Linked DNA regions of Homo sapiens: region 2 is linked to region 1. Evidence: fine-mapped expression QTL. Tissue or cell type: esophagus muscle. Region 1 holds a variant in brackets; the other region holds the start of a gene. All regions are shown on one strand. Distances are between the middles of the regions.

Region 1 (8,106 bases):
AATCCTTTCCCAATTCTTGCTTGTCAGTTTCTTATTATCAGAAAGGAAGTTCTGCCCTTCAGTAGATCTAGGATCTTCCACTGATCCTTCCCTCAACCCTATTTTATACTCATTCCCATACAGTCAAACCTTAAACCTTCTCAATTTTAATAAATGCAACCCTTCCAAAATGCCATTTTTTGTTTTGTTTTGTTCTGAGACAGGGTCTCACCCTGTCGCCCAGGCTGGAGTGCAGTGGTGCAATCACAGCTCACTGGACTCAAGTGATCCTCCCACCTCAGCCTCCTGAGTAGCTGGGACTACAGGCACGCACCACCACACCCGACTAATTTTTGTATTTTTTTGTAGAGACGGGGTTTCACCATGTTGGCCAGGCTGGTCTCAATCTCCTGACCTCAAGTGATCCACCTGCCTCAGCCTCCCGAAGTGCTAGGATTACACACATGAGGCATGATGCCCAGCCTCGAAATACCATTTTTAAGTATCACACTCTGATACCAGCTCACTACCTCTAATATCCTAACTCCAAAAAATCTGCCAACCCAACAGACCTGTAGTCCACTAATCTGATGACTTCTGCACTTCCTTTTACCTTCCCATGTCCTCAATCCCCTTCTTACCCAAATTAAATCCATATTCAATCATTTACTTCCTTCCTTCCTTTGCATACATGCTTAACTACTTGTCTTCCTTCTGACTATGTCAATCTTGCTTGGCTAGTTGTTACCAATGCAATTTTCTGCCTATTCTATGTTGATACCTACAGAGCTGCATGTGGCTGGATGGACTCTCTCTCTCTCTCTCTCTCTTTCAGCGCAATTTTCTGCCTATTCTGTGTTGATACCTACACAGCTGCATGTGGCTGGATGGACATGCACTCTCTCTCTCTCTCTCTCACACACACACACACACACACACACACACAAATACACGATGTCTGATAAATTGGTTTCTCTTTAAATTCGTGGCCAGGAGCCTCAAATGAGTTTCCTTAATGCTGACTGACAATTATACCTTATTTTCCTGATTCATCCATTCTGCCACTCTCTTACATAACTATTTCAACTTTTTGCTCCTCAATCTTCCATCACCTTCCCTCTCATCCTCACTTTTATCTTATGACCCTGTGTCCTATTTTACTAATAAAATACTAGAAGCAATAAAAGAACTTCTACAAACTCTCAAACCACATCTACCTAACTACGTCTGTGCCCACATATTCTGATTCCTCTTTCATTACTAGCGTGAACTATTTCTGCTCTACCCAAGACCCAACCTTTTTACTTACACACTAGATCCCCATTAACCACCACTACCTCTTCGTCTATCCCATCAAATTTTCCATTTTTTTCTCAGCCTCCTACAAACACGTCAAAACAAAAACAAAAAACAAAAAAACTCTTTGAACATCTCTCTTAAGTTACTATTCTATTTCTCTCCCTCCCTCTTCAGCAAAATTCCTCAGAAAAATGATTCTTTCTGCATGTCTCCAATTTCTCACTTCCCTTTCTCTTGAATCCATTCCAATGAGTCTATTTCCCCACCACTCTATCAAACCTGCTCTTGTCAGAATCACTAATGAATTCCACATTGCAAACTAGAATGACCAATTCAATTACCAGTTCTCTTTACTGGAACTATGAGCAGCATCTGACAAGGGGTTCATTACTCCCTCCTCTCAAAACACTTTCTTCATTGGCTTCCAAGATTCCATGTTCTCCTGGTTTTCCTCTTGCCTCAGTGATTTCTCCTTCTAAGTTTCCTTTGCTAGTTCTTCATTTCCCAAACTTTAAATGTTGTAGTGCTCCAAATCTCTGTCCTGGACCTTCGCCTCTTTATGCTTACTCCCTTAGTGAAGTCATCTGATCTGATTTCTTTAAATAGCATCTATACATAATTCCCAAACTTAAACCTCTAGCCCATTCCTTTCCTTTGAACTCTAGACTCAGATAGTTAGCAGTCATCTCACTTAGAATACCTAAGATATATCTTAAATTTACTTTGTCCAAGATCCAACTTCTCTCCTCCAAAATCTTCCATCATAGTTTTACCCATAACAGCAAATGGGTAACTAGCCTTCTAGGTGCTCAGACCACAAACTTTGTATCACCCTTAACCTCTGTGCCTCCCTCTTTTTTCTCTCCCTGCTTCCCAGTCCCCCAAATCCTGTTGACCTCAAAATGTCAATTACTCACCACCACCACTACTACCATTTTGGTCCAAGCCATCACCTCTCACCTGAATTACTGCAACAGTCTCCTAGGTGGTTTCACTGCTTCTGCCCTTGTTCTCCTTTAGCCTACTCTCAACAGTTGCCAGACTGACTCTTTAAAAGTCCAATCATGTCACTATTCTGTTCCAACTCATCCAATGTCTTTCTATACCACGTATCACTTAGTCTAAAAGCTGAAGTCCTTAAAATGGTCTATAAGACCTTGCTTGACCTGGCAGCACAACCAGCCCATCACCAGTGCCATCATTACCTTTCTGACTTCATCCTATATTACCCAGTCCTTTACTCAACTCCAATGACAAGCTTCTTCAAATGTAAATACCGCAGGCATGCTCCAACCTCAGAGACTTGGCATTTGCTATTCCCTGGGCCTAGAATGATTTGTATTTGTGTCATATCTCCTTCACTGACTGTCTTCATGTTATTTAAAAGTCACCTTATCAGTGAATTTTCCTGGCCATCCTTTAGAGAAGTGTAACTCCTCCCATACTTTATTCCCCCTTCCCTGGTTTATTTTTCCTCTTTACTACTTATCTTCTAACATGCTGTAAACTTACATTTTTTTTAATTCACTCATCTAAAATGTATGTCTTCTCAGGGTAGGGGTAGGGATTTTTGTCTGTTTTGTTCACTGAGGTACTTACAGAGCCTAGAGCAGTGCCTGGCATAAAATGGTCAAATATTTGATAAATGAATAAAATCATAGCCCTCCTTCAAGGATGATGCCAAATTATCCACAGTATTAAGACTATACTAAAAGGGACCACTAAAAAAATCTTTCTCTCAACTTTCTTATTTTATACATCTGGTTAGTTAGTGGTGTTTAATGCAGAATCAGAACTATAGCCAGTTCTCCTTATAACTATACTAATTATTTCCATGAAGATTTTTCTGATCCTTTTTTAATATTTGATCACTCATAACTCTCAAAGCAATAAATACGTTCTTTTGGCACTTGT[TA/A]TGGTATTGGTTTTTGAGACAGAGTCTCACTCTGTCGTCCAGGCTGGAGTGCAGTGGCGCATTCACAGCTCACTGCAACCTCCACTTCCCAGGCTCAAGCAATTCTTGTGCCTCAGCCTCCTGAGTAGCTGGGACTACAGGCATGCACCACCACGCCCAGCTAATTTTTGTATTTTTAGTAGAGACAGGGTTTCGCCATGTTAGCCAGGCTGGTCTTGAACTCCTGACCTCTCAAGTGATCCACCCGCCTTGGCTTCCTGAAGTGCTGGGATTGCAGGCATGAGCCACTGCACACAGCCACTTGTGTTGTTCTTTGTACTGAATTGTTGGTATATCTCTATTATCTCCCCTATAAAACTATATGCTCTTTAAGGCCAGGAGTTACGTTGTCAGTGGTTAGGATGAGAGATATGACTATATAGGGATGGCACAGGGATTTCTGTTGTGATGAAACAGTTCTGTATCTTGACTGTGGTGGTCAAAACTACACATGATAAAACTGCAAACAATTACACACATACAATGAGTGCCTGTAAAACTGGTGAAATCTGAATAAAGTCTTTGGATTGTCCAACATCAATTTCATGGTTTTGATAGTGCACTAGGGTTATATAAGATGTTACCAGCAGGGTTTGAAATTGGATGAAGGGTATATGGTACCTCTCTGCACGAATTTTCCAACTTCCTGTGAATCTATAATTACATACTACAAATTCTTTTAATGTAATATTCTCTTGACAAGAAATAAATACTCAAGCAGTATAAAAGTGTACACAACCAAACCCAACCACAGTCATACCGAGATCTGATTTCCAATCTCCTGGTCCCTTCTTTTAGTCCCTCTTCAGAAGGAACTATTCCCTTTCTTGTGTATCCTTCTAGAAAAGTCTATGCATTTTGAAGCAAAATATGTTTATTAATGTGTGCATATGCATGTGTATTTACACCAACACATACACAACTTATTTACAGCAATATAAGCGGCATACCATAAACACTGCTCTGCAACTTACTTTTTTTTAACCCAATAATGTGTCTTAGAGATTAGCTTATGGAGAAGTGCTCCTTTTTTCTTTTTTTATGACTATATGACATCCCATTGTGTGGCTATATCATCATTTATTTAACCAGACCCCTACTAAGAGTCATATATGTTTTTTGACAATATAATTAATACTATAAAGAGCAAAGATAAATTATTTAAAATTGAATGAAAAAGTATGAATATTTATCATTTTAACATGTAAAGTCAACTTGTCCTCCAAAGAAATTGCACAATTTGTGTTCCTGCCTACAGTATATAACAGTGATTCTAGATATCTTTGCCAGTGTTGTGTATTATTGAGCTTTTTAATCCTTGTCAATCTGATAATCAAAAAATGTTCTCCTGTTTAAATTTGCATTTGAATAATAATAAAAATAAACTTCCATAGAGCACTTACTGTGTGTCAGATATTGTTCTGAGAACTCCACATATATTAACTTATCTAATACTCATAACAGTCCCTTGAGGTAGATGATATTGCTATTATTAGCCACATTTTACTGATGAGAAAACTGAAACACAGGAAGGTTAGGGAACTTGATTACACTGATTGTTAGAGAATATGCAAACCCAAGCAGACTGACTCTAGAGGTTTAAATTTTAAACAACATATTAAGTTTTTTGTTCAGCTTTCCAAAAATATTTTCTTATGCTTAAAGCCATTTGTATATTTTTTGATATTAGCTACCTGGTTTTGTCCTCTGCCCATTTTTCTGTTGGATTTTTGATCTTACTCTTACCGAGCTACAAGATCTCTTTGTGTATTAAGAAAATTAGCCCTTTATGATAAATATGTTATTCCCAAAAAAGGTAAAACAGATACCTACCCTGTGACCTAGTCATCCTATTTAACCAAAAGAAATGAAAATATATGTCCATATAAAGACTCGTACACTAATATTCGTAACAGCTTTATTTGTAAATAAAACTGTAAATAACCCAAATGCTCATCAGCAAATGAATGATAAATTTTGGTATACCCATATAATGGGATATTACTACAAAAAATGAATGAATTATTTATACATGCAACAACAGAGAAGAATCTCAAAATAATTATTTGAGTGAAAGAAGCCAGACTATAAAGAAAAGTACATACTATGTAATTCCATTTATATAAAACTCTAGAAAATACAAAACAATCAATCTGTAGTTACATTAAGTAGATCAATGGTTACTTTGAGAGGGTGGAGTGTGGAGGGGCATGAAGTAAAGATGATAAAGCGGCATGAAGTAAAGATGATAAAGCGGCATGAAGTAAAGATGATAAAGGGGCATGAAGTAAAGATAATAAAGGGGCATGAGGTAAAGATAATAAAGGGGCATGAAGTAAAGATAATAAAGGGGCATGCATGAAGAAACTTCTGGAGATGATGGGTATGGTCACTATTTTGAATGTGGTAATGATTTCACAGGTATATACCTACATCAAAACTTACTAAATTGTGTAATTCACTATATGCCAGTTATACTTCAGTGAAGCTGTTATACTAAGGGACTCATAACATATTGTACTATTGTTTTAAAAATTATCAAAAAATGGTGATATCTCCTGTTTAACTTCTTTTATATTCATCATAAAGAACACAAGCAAGGCCGGGTGCAGTGGCTCACACCAGTAATCTCAGCACTTTGGGAGACCAAGGCAGATGGATCACCTGAAGTCAGGAGTTTGAGACCAGCCTGGTAACATGGCAAAACTCTGTCTCTACTAAAAATACAAAAATTAGCTGGGCGTGGTGAAACCCCGTCTCTACTAAAATACAAAAATTAGCTGGGTGTGGTGGCGCATGCCTATAATCCCAGCTACTCGGAAGGCTGAGGCACAAGAATCGCTTGAACCCAGGAGGCAAAGGTTGCAGAGAGCCGAGATTGCACCATTGCACTCCAGCCTAGGTGACAAAGAGACTGTCTCAAAAAAAAAAAAAAAGCAAATATGAAATGTTCCTGATTCAGGTTTGAAACATTATCCACTTCTTTTTTCAAAGTCATAGTTCAATTTGAGAGTGTCCTGATTCTACTCTAAGTCTCAAGAACCAACTAAAACAACTCTTCCAGTTGTGGTGGACATTGTACAATCAAAACAAAATAGAAATTTAATGCAGAGATTGAGAAACTACAATCATTATCAGTTATTCAATTTCAAATTCTTGAGTACATCAAAATGGCCTAAGTCATTCATTCATTTATTTCACTAAGATACATTTGGAATCTGCTATGTATGAGGCACTGTTAAATGCTAGGAATAAAGTGGCAATAGAATGTCGTGAAGATAAGACAACTTAAGAGCCTACCCTGAATGTCACTGATCCCCTTTATGCTAAGTTAATGTTATAAATATGTACTTAAAGTTATACAAAAATGTTACTTTTTATTTGTATTCTATATTGCAGTGCCATATAGATGTTTGAGGAAAAAAAACAAAAATGGGCCAGGGGTGGTGGCTGACGCATGCCTGTAATCCCAGTACTTTGGGTGGCTGAGGTGGGCAGATCATCTGAGGTCAGGAGTTTGAGACCAGCCTGGCCAACATGGTGAAACCCTGTCTCTACTAAAAATACAAAAATTAGCCAGGTGTGGTATTGCCCACCTGCAGTCCCAGCTACTTGGGAGGCTGAGGCAGGAGAAGCGCTTGAACCCAGGAGGTGGAGGTTGCAGTGAGCCCGAAATCACACCACTGCACTCCAGCCTGGGCAACAGAACAAGACCCTGTCTCAAAAAAAAAAAAAAAAAAAAAAAACAAGGTTCCACTGAAAACTACTAGATCACAAAATTTAACTCCTTTTAGACTTTAATATGTGGTAATGCAAAAACAATCACATCCCATGCCAAATAAAAAGTGGCTCTGAATTATCAATTTTTCATTATTTCAATTATTTGAGAGATATACCATTAGTATATAATGCACATGTAGCTTCTAAAAATGAGTAAGTGAACAGTGTTACATGACAAAGTACAATGTAAGATTTGCCAGCCAGTATACTCACCTCCCTATTTGTGATTTGATGTTTTCCTGCTCAAGGGTTCTAAGGTTATATACTCAGTAAATTCACACATTTCCTGAGTGTCTTCAGAAACTTTATTTGTTTTAATTTAAGTAAAATAACTGGAAAATAGCAATTTACATTGCAGAGATGCCCCCACATGAAGAAGCAGTGAAAGCCTATCACATAACAGAAAGTCATTAGCTTCAGTGAAGAAGGCAAACAGATCTCTGATATGGACCCAAACTTCCCCTGAGCAAAAGCCAATCAAAACAAAATATGACAATGCTACCTTGATTTTAAAACATGCTAAGTCTGGAACACCCACTGGGTATGACAAGTATTTTGTACAGGGAATGAAGAATATAGAAAATGAAGCTGATGACTATAAACTAACTTCATCAACAGCTCAATTAGATGTTGTCACAGACATACTTCTTAAACATGTTAAAATATATTCTATTTTATTCATTAAACTTTTTGGTGTTCATATGAATGTAACAAAGTAAAAAGTACACTACTGAGGTCCAGTAAGTACATTTACTAGAATGTATCTCCTGATTTTCTAAAAAGAAATTTCGTTTTGAAATACACATTTTAAAATTATTTGCCACTTCTGAGGGCTAATGACAAAGACATTGGCATATGCATTGAAAAACAACAAAAGGGAGACTCCAAAATTTAGGAGATGGTGGTATTAAGAATGTGAGGATGATGGAAAAATCTTTTTCTTATTTTTCATTTTTAAAGTGGGTATATTACTATTATTTGTAAATTTTACAATACATCAGATGAAGACTAAAGATCATATTGCTAAAGAAAAAAAGTAGAAACTAAACATGGAAATTCTGCATAGGCTTTTTCTCATGCTATTAAGAGTTTCA
Region 2 (8,106 bases), 120 kb before region 1:
CTTCCTTAGTTCTCCAGTGCACTGGAGAATTGATTGACTGACTGATTGATTGATTGATTGATTGGATGTGCTTTTTTTTTTTTTAATTGCACTGGGGAATTTTAAAAGGCTGCCTGAAGAGGGCACTATTTTCACCAAGAGAGAACTCACTAGCAGAGGAATTGGCTGCCTTGGGAGAGCAACCCTGGGAGGTTTTCTTTGAGGATGGAGGTCTGGTGGGGATGACTCCTTCCTGGAACTCACCAATCGCCTCATGTGGCGGCTGTCCATTCAGTCTGGGAGCTGCCCCTTTGGGTAACTCTGGAGGCAGCTGGCCTGAAGGTTCTTGCCAAGGGCCTCTTAAGCACCCCTAGCAACCAAGGTAATTCAAAGTGGGAGACAGAGACCCAAATTTGAATTAACTTGAGTCTAATTAGGAAAAGCTCCAGCTCTGCCTCCAAGAGTCACTCCTCGCCTCTGGGTCTCAGTCTCCCCATCTGTATACTGAGAAATGGTGCATTGGATGTGTTCATCTACTCAGCACGTGTTAACTGAGCACCTACTACACTCTGATCTCTTGGGAGAGACCATGGAACGAGAGAGACAAAAGGCTTTGCCCTCACAGAGCTGCTATTCTAACAGGGAGGACAGATGGCAAACAAGATTAAGGAGTGAAATCTATAGGCCATCAGAAGGGGATGTGAGCCATGGAAAATGAAGCAAAGAAGAAGCAGGGGGACATGGCTGCTAAGGATTAGTCCAGCTTAGAGACTCTGGGTCTAAAGCTCTTACTCTGCTGCATCCTTGTTAGGAGTCAAGAATGGTGGCAGGAAACTGGGCAGGGCCATGCGTGAGTACAGGGACAGCTCTCAGGGGTGGTGGGGATGGTGGGTTTGTTCACGGGCTTGAGCCCCAGTCAGTCTCTCAGCGGCTTCCTCCAGGAAACAGAACTGACTAACCCCAGGTGTGCTGGCCTGTCCTCAAGTCAAAGGCAGACACCTGGGTCTGCTGAGGAGTCCAGGGGTCACACAGGGTTCCTGGCAGGGCCCCAAAAGTCCTGACTGAGGGGTGGATTTCTTCAAAGCAAGGTGGGCAGCATCCTCAGGGCACTGCCAGTGACTCTTCTACATCCCTCACTTTGCCCTGGCCTTCGATGAACAAGACACTGGCCACCTCCAACTACAGGGGCTCTCAGACCCTTCCTTCCCTCCTACTGATCCTCCCCTGCATGGTGGGGTGTCCCCTCCCCTTACATGGGGAGGGAGGGAGAGGAATTTGAAAGTCCCCATTTCTGGCTGGGCATGGTGGATCACACCTGTAATCCCAGCACTTTGGGAGGTAGAGGCAGACAGATCGCTTGAACTCAGGAGTTCGAGAGCAGCCTGGGCAACATAGTGAGACCCCACCTCTACAAAAAATACAAAAATTAGCTGGGCACGGTGGTGCATGCCTATAGTCCCAGCTACTAAGGAGGCTGAGGTGAGGAAGATAGCTCGAGACCGGGAGGCGGAGGTTGCAGTGAGCTGAGATCATGCTACTGCACTGCAGCCTGCTCTGTTGAGACAGAGCAACACCCTGTCTCAAATATATATATCTGACCAACCCGGAGTTGGTCAGTTTTGTTTCCTGGAGGAAGCCGCTGAGAGACAGACTGGGGCTCAAGCCCATGCACAAACCTACCACCCCCACCACCCCTGAGAGCTGTCCCTGTACTCACGCATGGCCCTGCCCAGTTTCCTGCCACCATTCTTGACTCCTAACACTGTGCTAAAAAAAAAAAAAAAAAAAAAAAAAAAAAAAAAAAAATCTCCCCCCATTTCTTATGAATTCACAATTTTTCTCTTCCTGTACGGATCATTTTTGAAAACATGTCTTGTAAACCTTCTGTGTACTCAGGATGAATGAGGGATGCCAAGATGCTGAGAAAGGACTTACCGCCAACCAGGGAGGCCAGGCTAATACACATGAGAAAATAACAATCCGCTCTTACAGTTTGATTTGCAGCCCACAGAGTCCTTTGGAACCACTTACTATCTCCTAAAACCACACAGGGTCTGTTGCTCTCATTTTACAGATGAGGAAATTGAGGCCCAGAAAAGCACCTTCTCTTCCCTCAATACATAGCTGCCCCATGGAGTGGTAAGGAGAGAGAGGAGACAATGAAGATTAAAGTTTCCAAATAATTCCAATTCCAATTCTTACCCCCAGAGGGATGCATAAGAATTCTACGTAAAGGGACAAAGTTGCTCTGCCTCAGTCTAGGGTAGAGCCAAGCTTGGCATGGAACCCACCAGCCTCGGCCTCTCCTTGGCGGGACAAGGGTAAAGTGAAAGTCCTCTGTCTCTCTGGAAAAGCACATGGGGGCTGGGTGCAGTGGCTCACGCCTGCAATCCCAGCACTTTGGGAGGCCAACCCGGGTGGGTCATCTGATGTTAGCAGTTCGAGACCAACCTGGCCAACATGGTGAAACCCTGTCTCTACTAAAAATGCAAAAATTAGCTGTGTTTGGTGGCAGGCGCCTGTAATCCCAGCTACTCGGGAGGCTGAGGCAAGAGAATTGCTTGAACCCGGGAGGCGGAGGTTGCAGTTAGCTGAGATCTCGCCCTTGCACTCTAGCCTGGGTAATAGAGCAAGACTCAGTCAAAAAGAAAGAAGAAAGAAAGAAAGAAAGAAAGAAAGAAAGAAAGAAAGAAAGAAAGAAAGAAAGAAAGAAAGAAGGAAAGAAAGAGAGAGAGAGAGAGAGAGAGAGAAAGGAAGGAAGGAAGGAAGGAAGAAAGAAAGAAAGAAAGAAAGAAAGAAAGAAAGAAAGAAAGAAAGAAAGAAAACGAACTAAAGGAAGGAAGGAAGGAAGGAAGGAAAGAAGGAAAGAAAGAAAGAAAGAGAGAGAGAGAGGGAGGGAGGAAGGAAGAGAAAGAATGAAAGAAAGAAAGAAAGAAAGAAAGAAAGAAAGAAAGAAAGAAAGAGAGAGAGAGAGGGAGGGAGGAAGGAAGAGAAAGAATGAAAGAAAGAAAGAAAAGAAAGAAAGAAAGAAAGAAAGAAAGAAAGAAAGAAAGAAAGAAAGAAAGAAAGAAAGAAGGAAAGAAAGAAAGAAAGAGAAAGAAAGAAAAGCATACGGGATTAAGGATGTACTCTTGGTGTAAGGGGAAAATGTTGCCCCACGTGGGTAAGGGTGCCAAGGGATCTCAGTGGTGGGGCTGGACACCTTTCTGATCCAACTTTTCAGAGTGCCCTTTCTGCTTGCCAAGGGCAGAGATAAGGCAGTTGGAAAAGAAGCTTTGCTGTTGCAGGCTAATCATTCCATTCTCGCAGAGCACCTTCCGTGTGCCAGGTACTATTGCTACGGCAGGGAACAAAGCAGGTCCCTGCAGGGAACAAAGCAGGTCCCTGCCCTCCTGCAGTTCTGGGAGCTTAGCAAGGCTCTGGCTGGCTCTTGGAGGACCTTACTGACTGGAGTTTGTGTCTGCTTGGAGGTGCCCTCTCCCCTGAACCTCTTTCACAGGCAGAACCTAGGGGGGTGGGGAGTGGGGTAAAAGAAACAAACCTCTGCTGAGTCAAGGGCACTGCAAGAATGCAGAAGCGACCATGCAGCTCTGGAAGGATGCGGTGGGAAACCCGCCACTCAGTGGTGGAGAAAAGCCCACCAGTTTCTCCAGCAAATGGCTGAGCTTTGTTGGGCCTCCTTGTCTTCTCATCTGCCCATGTGTTAATATCTACTCGCCATTGGTTTGTTAGGTTCAAATGAAATCAGGGATGTGTCCCTTTTTGGCTGCTAGCTCTTCTCAGATCCCCTGACCTCTCCCCATCTCTTCTCTATGGCTCTGCGTGGGAAGGGGCAGTTGTCACCCCCGACTCCCACTAAGCTGAGCCCTCCTCCCAACCTAAGCGGGAGGAAGCCGGTTCTGCTCACGGATAAGAGTTACCGGGCTCCTGAGTTCTTGTTCTGCTGGGCCGGGGTCCACCCCCTCTCCTGGGCTCATCCGACTAGGACTTGGGAAGTGCTAGGGGAGCCAGGAGATGCCCAGCTGGGGGCTGTGGCCGGGGGGAGGCCAATGACAGAGCAGGGGGAACTCCCTGTAGCTGGGCACCCACTTCAACAGGGCCGGGACGACCCCCGCAGGCAGTGGGCCGCCCCTCACCCACACGGTCCTGCTCAGCCCAGGCTCACATCTGGGCTCAGGAGGCGGGAAGCACAGGTGTAAAGAAATCGCCAACTGTGCAGCCCCAATCCAAGGGTTTTATTAAAGTGGGGGCGGCGGGAGGGGGGCGGTGGAGGAAGGATAAGCGGCGCAAACGCCCTGGAGAGTGAGAGAAAAGGTGCGAGAAGGCAACAGCTCCCCTCACCGCCCTCGATTGCAGCAGAGAGCCTTCTGCACGGCGGCGGCCGCCCCACCTTCACACCGGCCCCGCGTGCGGTGAAAGTGGCCGAGCCGCGCCGCCGCCGGATCAGGGCCGCCCCGGCACAAACTTTCCCAGACCCGCCCTCGGAGCGGCCACCCAGGCTCAACGGGCTCCACGGGCGCAGGGCGGCTGGGGCTGCCGCGGAGGGCGGGTGCGCGTGGACCGGGAGGTGGGGAGGCGGCGCGCGGCGGGGAGTCCCGCCCCGGGTTACCTGGGTTCCAAGGGTCTCGGGAGTCCAGTGGACAGGGCGCGGGGACAGCACAGGCAGGCCGGAGACCAGACACTCCTCCCGGGCTGCGGCGACCCCGGACTCGCGGGCCCTGCACCTGGCCCTGCGGGTCGCCGCGCCTACCCATGCCGGTCCCCGCCCGTCCCCTCCCGCGCGGGGCGGGGCGGCCCCGGGGGAGGAGCCGAGGGCCGTGGGCACCACCCCCTGAGCCAGGCCTGCGCCTCATCACGTGCCACCGACCCTGGGCTCTGTGACTTCCAAAGACTCGCCACCCCATTCCACAGCCTGAGGTGCCACCAAAGCCATAAGCCCAGGGGAGTCTCTCACACCCCATTCTCCTAGGGCCCATGTACCCCACGCCCACCTCCACCCCAGGAGCCGAAGGCCGGCAGGGAGCCTGGAGAGCCTCCTTGATGGGAGAACTGCGGAGCTTGCCCCTCGGAAAAGTGCATGGGGTGGAGAACAGGGAAGGAGAAAAAAACAACAACTGGGTACTCGCAGCCCCACCGCGGTGTCCGCTTCGCCGGTGGGAGAGGATCCTCGCCGCCCTGAATCCTTGAAGTGAGTTCCACCCCTGTCTCTTGGAGTGCTCAGGGTGGCGGGCCCTTTGCCAGCCCTCACCCTTTCCCCAGGGATCCTGTCCCAGGTCACAGGCTCCTAGACTGGAAGGCGCTGGGCCTGGACCTCTGCCACTCAGTGGACACAGCTATAAGAGATGAAGGGACACAGAGGACAAAGAAGAAACATTTGGCTTCAGGGAACCAGACTCTGTGTCTCCTCCCAGGTGCTGAAGGAACAGGTTGCAGCTACCTGGTGCCCCCACCCCGACCCTGCCAGAGAAAGGTTGGAACATCCACACCTGTGGACCGAAGTCCCCCACCAGGCTCTTTCCTCCCACCCTTCAGCCCCAGGCTCTCTGAGCTCCTGCTCCTCCCTGCCTTGCCTTGTTTGCTGAGGGCACACACAGTGGAGAGAGCACAGGACTGGGAGTCCAGAGACCTGGGCTCTAGTCTACTCTGTGACTCGGGTCAAGTCTCTGGCCCTTTGTGGGCCCAAGTTGCCCCATTTGCAGTGAATAGGTTGCAGTCAATTATCTCCGGCCATTTTTACGGATCCTGAACCGTGGTCTTGGGCACCTTGCTTTATTAGGCTTTTTGGTGGCTGTGCATCTTGTAAGGGTGTGTATGCATGTGCGTGTGTGTGTGCGTGCGACATGCGCTTGTCCTCTCAGACCCAAGTTCTTAAAGGGAAAGAGACTGGGGCCTACACAGAGGCAGGCATGTATATTCCACAGACCAGAGTTTGACAAGAATGACTGGACACAAGAGTGGAGCCCAGTCCCAGCTCTATGCTGAATTCAGAGTAGCCTTGGACAAGACCCTCACCATCTACAAAATGGAGATTAATAATCCCTGCTTTGCCTTTCCAAGGCTAGTCGGGGGACTCAGTGAGATATTAGATATGAAGCTCTTTGAAGGGGAATAGCACAGGGATGTGTGCTTTTGATGTCTGGGCCAGTGATGGGTTTGGGGGAAGAATAGGGTGTGAAGCATTCTCTGGGAGGCAAAGGCTGGCACTGGACTGATTGGCCACCCTGCCAAAGCTGCAGCATGCACAGCACAGGCAGGCACCCCACCACCAGCAGCCAAGGTGAGCAGAGATGCCTGGTGCCCCACCTGGATTCCTGCCTGCTGTAGGTATCTGTGTGTGCACCTTGAAGAAACTAAAGAGGGAAGATAAAGAGGCTCCCAACCTAAATGGAGGTGGTCAGTGGATTACTGATGAATCGATCTGCATATCTTGGCCAAAATCACCCTCCTCTGCTCTTAGGGAGTTTAAAGTCTAACTGAATGATTGAACATGAACCCTTTGGAGAATGATGTGGAGCCAGGAGAGGGGATTGTGGATGGTGAGCACACAGGATGATCAGAGGAGGGGGAAGGGCAGGGAGGGGCCGGGGAGGGGGGTACTTAGACCACATGGAGATGCATTTAGAGTATTGTGTTCAACACTCCTATTTCATAGTGATGAAATGGAGGCCCAGAGAGGGAAAGTGACCTGCCCAAGGTCACACAGTCACAAGAAGTCAGTAGCAGAGCTAGAACTTGGACCCAGGACTTCAGGAATCTATGCTGGATTTGAGCCTCCTGTGCAGCCGAGGGAGACCTGAAGTGTGGGAAGGACTGGGATACGTACCAGTGGGCAGGAAGAAAGAGTGAGGCAAAGTGCAGAGGTGGGAACTTTGTACAGCAAGGGAAAGGAGCTGGAATCACAGGCAGGATCTGGAAGGAGGGAGCTGCCCAGACCTGGAAAGCCAGGCTGAGCACTGCAGACCACAGAGGGTTTCGAGCTGACACCAGTTGGGAAGATACAGGCGTGCGAGGGGCACACGCCCAAATGACCCAGTGAGACAGCAGGTGACATGACAGCAAGGCAGCAAGGAGACGGGGAAGAGCAGCTCCAGGAGTCAGGCAACCTCCAATCAAATGGCCTTGAGCAAGTTGTCTCTCTTCTCTGACCCTCAGTTTCTTTTTTGTGGAGTGAGAGATAATCATCTTTTTTTCCTTTCAGGGTTATTGTAGTGACCACAGAATGCATTTGGAAGTGCTCTGTAAACTGCAGAGTGCTAAGTAAATTTAATATTTGGAGTTGTGTTTTATTTTCCAAAGGGCTCAGTAAACATTTGTGGAACTGACTGATATTGGATTGGACACTCTCCTCATGGCAATGGGCAGAGGGACCACAAACGGAGGGGGGCAGGGATTGGGGTGGTCAGAGGGAGTCCTGGCAAGGGTGTGAAGGAAGGAGAGCTTCAGTCTTAAATGTGAGTCTCCCTCTGACATCTTTACAACATAACTCAAAAAGCCTTTTTGGGGGGAAACAGTCCTACCCCAATCCATGTGACTCAAAATGCCCCATCTCTTCCTTTGCCTGTGTGTTCAAGGGGCGCCATATCAGATGTCACTATTCTATGTGTTCTTCACCCATCCCCACTGGCCATCTACTCCTCAGGCACTCACCAGCTCCTCCTGGGTGGGCCCAGACGTTATATTTGTTTACAAGGCCTTGTTGGATAGCAGAAACGGTACTACAGAAACCATCGCCCTTAGTTAATATGGCAAGATTCAGGTCCCTCACATGTGTTCTCAGCCCCCTGGCACCCAACTCTACCCCAATCCATAAGTCCGCTCACGCCTCCCCTCTCCTTGGCAATGGAGTCACCAGGGCAGGGCTTACTGCCCCACTTGGCAGATGAGAAAACGGAGGCTAGGAGAGAGGCGCTGCCTGGCAGCGCGAAACCTAGAACAGCCTCACCCACACCGTCAGAGTTGCCCTGCTGATGAGGCCATTATCTCATCAGGGCTGGAAGTATTTGCCTCATTTGACAGAGGAGGAAATGGGCACTAAGGGCAAGGACATGCTTTACGGGAACTTCTTGCAGAGCTTTCTTTTCTGCCACTGTATCCAGATAAGGGGTCCATGTTGCCAGTGGTTTCCCA

Direction of the effects. Positions count from the first base shown, and alleles are read on the strand shown. Sizes are in standard deviations (SD) of each study's normalised expression.
With allele A in place of TA in region 1, the expression in esophagus muscle of the gene that starts at base 4,733 in region 2 is higher (large effect, 1.6 SD a copy in GTEx).

The links. PIP is the estimated chance that this variant, and not a neighbour inherited with it, causes the effect.
Region 2: PAQR5 starts here. The variant in region 1 is fine-mapped to the expression of PAQR5 in esophagus muscle (GTEx, PIP 0.91).

What each region holds. Positions count from the first base shown.
Region 1 is chr15:69,175,089-69,183,194 of GRCh38, reverse strand. The region is part of intron 1 of GLCE (glucuronic acid epimerase); the gene reads right to left. Among named protein-coding and RNA genes, the nearest start is that of GLCE, 19 kb to the right of the region's middle. The variant TA/A (reference allele first, on the strand shown) is at 3,193.
Region 2 is chr15:69,295,539-69,303,644 of GRCh38, reverse strand. It overlaps PAQR5 (progestin and adipoQ receptor family member 5), which reads right to left and starts at 4,733. Exons shown (of 9, transcript NM_017705.4): 1 at 4,589-4,733. It overlaps PAQR5-DT (PAQR5 divergent transcript), which reads left to right and starts at 4,882. Exons shown (of 3, transcript NR_184010.1): 1 at 4,882-5,167.